2 linked regions of the Homo sapiens genome follow. The protein of the gene in region 1 purifies or fractionates together with the protein of each later gene. This does not show direct contact. Each region holds a gene or a part of one and is shown on either strand. Other genes may lie near its edges. The genes, in order: CRTC3 and KIAA1549.

Region 1 (3,816 bases):
TCGGCCTCCCAAAGTGCTGGGATTACAGGCGTGAGCCACCGCACTGGGCCAGATGAAATCTTTCAGAAAAGGCTTTGACTACCAGGCCCACCGCCCTGTGTCACGGTCTCTGAGGCTGGACACCTGCATCTCAAAAAGTCAAGTCGACCCAGGGAACGTTAACTTTTTGCTTTATATAATATTATGTTGTTTAAACTCTCTTATGAAGGTTCCTGAACACACAACAACATAAAAGCAGTAAAGAAGCTGAGGGATAGCTCGCTCACCTGGCAGGATGGTGTTCGGGAGACTCCCGCAGTTGGAATACGGGCTTGGTCTCAAATGAAAAGAGTCCTGCAGTTCTCGGGAACCTTGTTGCACCAGAGGCACCTGGAAGCATCGAAGGTCATGTGAGGAAGGCCACACCTCTGTTTCCAAGGAGGAAGTGAGTATTGCAATGTGCTCCCAGAGCAAAACCTGACTTGCAAACTAATCCATATTCCCTTCTTTCCAGGATCCCAGAGTGCTTTGCTCTTATGGTAATGCATGCACAATATTCTTGTCAGGCAGGCAGACGCTGGGGTGGAGGAGGGGTCCCTGAGGTCCACAGCGTGGTGACTTTTCCCCAGCCCACTACACCATCCCAAGAGACACCAATGCTCATGGTTTCTGTGGCCCCTCAGACATCTGTCCTCAGCCTCACCAAGGCCTTTGCAAACTGCCTTCTGTGGGAACCCTTCAAAGGCTCTGTCTATAACCAAGGAAGTATGGACTCTTCTTCCTTGGTTTCTTTCTTCTTTTTTTTTTTAAAGATAGGGTCTCTGTTGCCCAGGCTGGAGTGCAATGGCGCCATCTCGGCTCACTGAAACCTCCAGCTCCCAGGCTCAAGCAATCCGTCCACCTTAGCCTCCCAAATAGCTGGGACCACATGCCACCATGCCTGGCTAATTTTTGTATTTTTTTTAGAGACAGGGTCTTGCTGTATTTTACCCAGGCTGGTCTCAAACTCCTGAGTTCAAGTAAGCCACTGGCCTTGGCCTCCCAAAGTGCTGGGATTATGGGTGTGAGCCACTGCACCTGGCCTCTTCCCTGGTTTCTAGAAAACTGAGAAAGGGGAAGGCTTTCCTTTTCACACTCAGAAGGAGGAAACTCAGGCAAGCTCCTCCCTATGAGAAAGCCTCTATGAGGACTGGTTATAACCAGTGCCAATTTTAGGTTCCTTTCCTGAAATTAATTTTCTAAGCCATTTTAAAAAAAGTCTCAAAAGAAGTGTCTATCATTTTTCAGGGAGACGGTGATTCCCACCTAGACTAAAATGGCTCTTTGGGAAACAGGGAGGCAAGGAGGATTGGTTCTTGCCACAAAGCTTCATCTGTGGCCTGCTTAGGAAACAGCTATCTTAATTTATTTTATTATTATTATTTTATTTACTTATTTTGAGACAGAGTCTTGCTTTGTTGTCCAGACTGAAGTGCAGTGGTGCGATCTCAGCTCACTGCAAGCTCCGCCTCCCGGCTTCACGCCATTCTCCTGCCTCAGCCTCCCGAGTAGCTGGGACTACAGGTGCCTGCCACCACGCCCAGCTAATTTTTTTGTATTTTTTAGTAGAGACAAGGTTTCACCGTGTTAGCCAGGATGGTCTCGATCTCCTGACCTCATGATCCGCCCGCCTCGGCCTCCCAAACTGCTGGGATTACAGGCGTGAGCCACTATGCCCAGCTATTTTATTAAGTTCTTGGCTGGGCACAGTGGCTCGCACCTGTAATCCCAGCACTTTGGGAGGCCAAGGCGGGTGGATCACTTGAGGTCCGGAGTTCAAGATTAGCCTGGTCAACAAAGTGAAACCCCATCTCTACTAAAAATATAAAATTTAGCCAGGTGTAGGGGTACATGCCTGTAACCCCAATTACTCAGGAGTCTGAGACATGAGAATCACTTGAACCCAGGAGGTGGAGGTTGCAGTAAGCCGAGATCACGCCACTGCACTCCAGCCTAGGCGACAGATTAAGATTCTGTCTCAAAAAAAAAAAAAAAAAAAAGTTCTGGAACCTGTTCAACCCTTCTTCCACTCCTTAATCCATCGGAGGGCCCAGTCCATACTTATTGAATACTATTGAATACTATAAAATCTAGAATATTAAAAATAGTCAATGTTAGGAAAAAACTAAACTGTAAAAGAAAGTGGCCGAGTTGAAAATACCTTACGGAACGCACTCCCCTCACTCCCCAGGACTGAGCTCTCCCCAGGAGGCCCCACGCTGTGCTGGGTGCACCAGCCTGGGTGCAGGCCAAATGCGGCGCCACCTTCTGACTCTGCGGTGGGAGCAGGCGCCACTCTCCCTATGCCTCAGTTTCAACATGAGGGCGCTGAGGAGGCAGGTGCTGTGTCCCTTCCAGTGTTCATGATTTTACAGTTCTACAACGAGAGTGTCATCAAAAGTCTCCTGCCGATTGTTCCAATAGTTCCTCTGCTGAAGCCTGATACTAAATAAGGCAGCCAGAGAAAGCATTTTAGGGCCAAAGAAGATGAAAGGCTCTTCTAGCCACAGAACACAACCAGAACCAGGAAAGTGGCATGTCTGGTCTGCTCAGTTCTGAATTCTACAGAATGAACAACCTAAATGGTACAGTTTATGCACCAAGGGAGGAGAAGGCAGGGGCGATCACCCACCTGTTGAGGAAAGGCAGGGCCTGGCCTCATGGACTGCTGGTCAAAACCCACATCTGGGAAGAAGTTGGTCAAAGATGAGCCCTTCAGGGAATAAGGAGATGATCATTTAGCTTGGAACTCAGAGCAAAACAAGCATTCCCTCTGCACCAACGCTCCTGCCAGAACTCACCTGGGCCGGGAGAAGCTGAAAGTCTGACTGTGGCAGTGAGGAGGCTGCCTGGGGCTGCTGGGCAGGGGCCTCAGGGGCGCGGGGCTGCTGCAGGAGGGGCTGGGTGAGCTCCTGGGGTGCAGGGTAAGGGGGTGGCGGCGACACCTGGGCTTGAGCTTCTGTGGGCAGAAAGGAAAGTTGGCTTCGGTCTGAGGACACCATCTGCAAAACAAACACACAAAGCCACTAATGAGCTTCTGCGTTTCTGGCGTTAAGTCCTTTAGGATTAGGAAATGTCAGAGTGAGAGGAAGCCTGAGATTTTCCTCACCGCGGTGTTCTGTGCAATGCTGTGAGAAGCCCGTTTCTCATCCTTCAAAGTATATCTCAAATTTTACTTCCCCACAAAGCATGTTCCATTCAATGACAAGTTCTATTGTCTTAAAAGAACTAAACAAGAAAACAGCCAATTTAACCAATTTCCTTTCAGTTTTCTCCGTGAAAATCATGTTTTGTTTTGTTTTATAGCCGTGTCTTCTGGTTAAAAGTGGAAAATTGAAAAAGGCCCTTAGCTCTGTCATCCCCAAATCCTGTTAAAACAAGACACTACAACATTAACAAGCAATAAGCATTAATAAAAAACACTAAACAACAGCACAGAACACTAAATGATAACAAACAACACGAGGACAAAGATAACGGGAGAGAAGAAAATGGCAACAAAAGCTGGAAAATGAGCAGCAGATGGCCCGGTGGCAGCTGGCTTAGCAGAGCTGAGAAAACCCGATGCTAGGCTGGCAGTGAGGAAAAACCAGGAGGCAATCTCACTGACAGCACTCAGTCCCCACAGGGCTCTGGGACTGGGGACAGCAGGGAGCAGGCGGTGAAGCTAAAACCAGGAGATTCTGGTCACAGTTTGTGTAAGGGGCAGTTGGACCTGCAGAGCCCTTGCCTTGAGTGTGCTTCTGCGCACTGGCCCCCACCATCCTGCCACCTGCCAGGAGACTGGAAGGTTCTACT
Region 2 (3,816 bases), on another chromosome or scaffold:
TTTTTAGTAGAGACGAGGTTTCACTATGTTGGCCAGGCTGGTCTCGAACTCCTGGCCTCAGGTGACCCACCTGCCTCAGCCTCCCAAAGTGCTGGGATTATAAGCGTGAGCCACCACATCCAGACTGTATCTCAGTGTTTTTACAACCAGTCAAATGCTCGCAATGAATGAAAACAGCAGGTCTAGGGGACAATTCTAATCTAGTTGCCTGGTCAAATAAAATATGGTTCTTGCACACTATTTACACAGACTCAGTCCCAAAAGCAGGTGTCTCTCAAGGTCTCTGGAGATTTACATAGCTCCAGAGTTAGTCCAGGCTGACTTAGCCTTCAATGTTCCAACAATACCTATTCCCAGAAGGCTAGAACAGAAGGCACTTTACCTCTTAGCCCAGTGCTTCCCAAACCTCAATTGTGCATGCAAAATCACCAGGGGGATCTTGTCAAATGCAGATTCTGATTCAGAAGGTCGGGGGTGGGCCCTGAGATTCTGCATTTTCTAACAAGCTACGAGGCAGTGGAGGCAGTGATGATGCGAGCTAAGAGGCAGTGATGATGCTCAGAGTGTGGGGACCACAAGATTAGAATTTCACTAATGAGAAGTAATTGCCTGAAGCTAACAAAGGAGATGGAAAAAAGAAAGAGACAAAGAGAAAGAATAAGAGAAAGCAAAGTATGGGTCTTGAGTGTGTGGATGCAAGAGGGAAGAATAAAGGGAGTTTTTAAAAAGAAGAGCCATCTGCAATGGTGAGAGTGAGCTGCCTTCAGCAGGTCATGGGCCTAGAACATCTACCAGGCAAGGAGAAATGACAAAACAACCTAACAGAAAAAGGACAGATGCTGCTTATAAGTGCATTCCAAGACATCCAAGATGTTGACTTGATATGTAGGAGCTACAGGGAGAAATGAGCTACAAGGAGCTAGAGGGTTAATGAGATTAGCGCTAATCTCATTAACCCTTTCTTACACCGAGGAGGAAACCCAGGACAAGGTAACTTGTCCATAGTCACAAAGTTACAGGCAGATTTGCATTTGCACACACCCAGGTTTTTTAACTCACCTTTTAACAAATCCTGCTGCCTAACAACAAGAAAAAGAAATCACATCATTGTGAGCTCCAGATGAAAGGTGGGTGGTCACAACTTGAAAACAAATTAGATCAGTTAGAACAGTGTCTTCCTATCTGGGAAAATCAACCTAGTGTAATTATAATGACGGTAATTAGCTGCCTCTATCATTCAGGGCACTGATAGAAAACCTGTGGCTCCCACGTCCCTAGTGACTTGTAACAACTCCCTGGCTGGGTTCTGTTTTCAGAATTAAGTGAGGCACTTCCTGACAAGCACTGCAGCAGCTGTTCCCAAACGGGCAGGAGTGAGCATTGAAAATGCAGTCCTCTGCACCCTTTCACTCCCAACCCAAACAAAACCAAGCAAAAACATGTAACAAAAAATGCTTATTTTATTTTACCTTATCTTATTTTATCTTATTTTATTTTGAGATGGAGTCTTGCTCTGTCACCCAGGCTGGAGTGCAGTGGCGCGATCTCATTTCATTGCAACCTCTGCCTCCCGGGTTCAAGCAATTCTCCTGCCTCACCCTCCCAAGTAGCTGGGATTACAGGCACCTGCCACCACACCCGGCTAATTTCTGTATTTTTAGTAGAGACCGGGTTTCACCATGTTGGCCAGGCTGGTCTCCAACTCCTGACCTCAGGTGATCCCAAAGTGTTGGGATTACAGGCGTGAGTCACCGCGCCCGGCCTCAACATAACGATTTTAAATTAGCTGTTCTAACAGTGAAAAGACAACTGCAAGATACCAATGGTATACAGTAGTCCCCCTCCTCCAAGGTTTCGGATACCGGAGGACAACTGCAGTTTGAAGATATTTTGAGATATTCTGAGGTATTTTGAGATACAGCATATTCACGTTTTATTACAGTAGACTGTTAGAACTGTTCTGTTTTGTTATTATTGTTAATCTCTTACTGTGCCTCATTTTTTAATTAAACTTTATTGCAGGTATGTACATATAGGAAAAAACCATGGTATATACAGACTTCAGTACTACCCAAAGTTTCAGGCATCCACTGGGGGTCTTGGACCACATCCCTTGCAGATAAGGAGGGACTACTATATCTTCAAAATACTGTTAATTTTCAGTTACTGGGTTTACCATATCCGGATCAGTGGTTCCAATGCTCAGGGGCTAAAACGGAGCTGTCAACTTGTTAAAATGAAGATTCCCAGGCACTGCCACCAAAGAGTCTAATTTAGAGGCTAAGGGTGAGTCGTAGACATCTAAATTCTTAACAAGCACCCCCACATCCCCAAATGATGTTGATGCAGGAGGCCTAGGGGCCACACTTTTGAAACATTTAAGTATTTGTTTATAATATCCTAAACGACTCACAAAGCATAAATATTCACCTAGAAATGGCCAATAATAAAACAGCACATTAAGAAAAAAATTTCACACACCATAAGCATAAATGCAATAAAAAAATTATTAAAAGAACAAATGGCAGATCTTGCTAATCAAAACAACCAAAAACTTCTACATTTCAAAATTATGTAAAATTTAAAAGAAATTCCTTTGGAAGGGGAAAACGCAACATATAGAAGGAAAAATGGTTGCTATCCTTCTAATACATAAAGATTTAAATACATATCTATGCCACAACAGGTAAATAAATAAAAATACAGAGAAAATTCACAGAATACAAATACAAAATAAAAAATATTCAATTCTAAAGCAATAAAACCGTGCAGGTTAAAACAATGTATTACAAATTTATTTAACAAGGGCTTTTAAAGTAACATTCAATGCCAGTGATGAAGTGAATACTCAATGCAAGTGATAATGGAAGGCCCCTGCGTAAGCTTCAAGGGCTTATGTCAGCATTATAACTTTCAAAAATTGCTTCATTCAAAAATCACATACTGAGTACCTACTAGGGGCCCAGCATTTTGAACAAAAGATGCAGAAATCCAGCCTGGTGGGCCTTACATTTTAATCACACTCTAATACCCCTTCCACAAATGTATACTCAAGAAAACACACACACACACACACACACACACACACGGAAAGAAACATGCACAAAGCCTTTTTTTTTTGAGACGGAGTCTTGCTCTGTCGTCCAGGCTGGAGTACAATGGCGCCATCTCGGCTCACTGCAACCTCTGCCTCCCTGGTTCGAGCAATTCTCCTGCCTCAGCCTCCCAAGTAGCTGGGATTACAGGCACATGCCACCACACCCAGCTAATCTCTGTATTTTTAGTAGAGACGGGGTTTCACCATGTTGGCCAGGATGGTCTCAAACTCCTGACCTCAGGTGATCCGCCCACCTCGGCTTCCCAAAGTGCTGGGATTACAGGCGTGAGCCAGCGCGCATGGCCAGCAGAGCCTTCTCTATGTAGCTATTCATCAGCATTACTTACAGCAACCCAAAAAATGGAAATAAAAGAATAAATCATTAGGATAGAAAATAGTTTTCAAATAAGACTTAATGAATGGAAAAATGCTTAAGTTAAATGTAGAGTGGAAATGGTAGTAAATACAATTGTGCATATAATTCTTTTTTTAATGTTAACAACAAAAAAACGATAAAATTACTTAGTGTTACCTACAGGCTGTGAGATTATGGGTGACTGGTTTCTGTACCTTTCAGTAATTTCCAAATTCCCTACAAAGCAATCTATTTCATAATAACTATTACTTTTTAAAAACTTATCTCTGAATAAGGTGAAGAAACTGGGCATGATTCTTTGTTTTTATACTGTGGATGGCTAATCACTTAAGAGCAATGCATT

What was found.
Region 2: the proteins of CRTC3 (region 1) and KIAA1549 purify together in Homo sapiens (affinity purification with mass spectrometry; one large-scale study listed by BioGRID and IntAct). This does not show direct contact.

Annotation. Positions count from the first base shown.
Region 1 is NC_000015.10:90,637,650-90,641,465, reverse strand, and holds part of CRTC3 (CREB-regulated transcription coactivator 3), read right to left. Parts: intron 3,021-3,816; coding exon 2,820-3,020; intron 2,732-2,819; coding exon 2,651-2,731; intron 425-2,650; exon of another isoform or gene 370-424; coding exon 267-369; exon of another isoform or gene 209-266; intron 1-208. UniProt on the Homo sapiens protein: Transcriptional coactivator for CREB1 which activates transcription through both consensus and variant cAMP response element (CRE) sites.
Region 2 is NC_000007.14:138,974,598-138,978,413, forward strand, and holds part of KIAA1549 (UPF0606 protein KIAA1549), read right to left. Parts: intron 1-3,816. UniProt on the Homo sapiens protein: May play a role in photoreceptor function.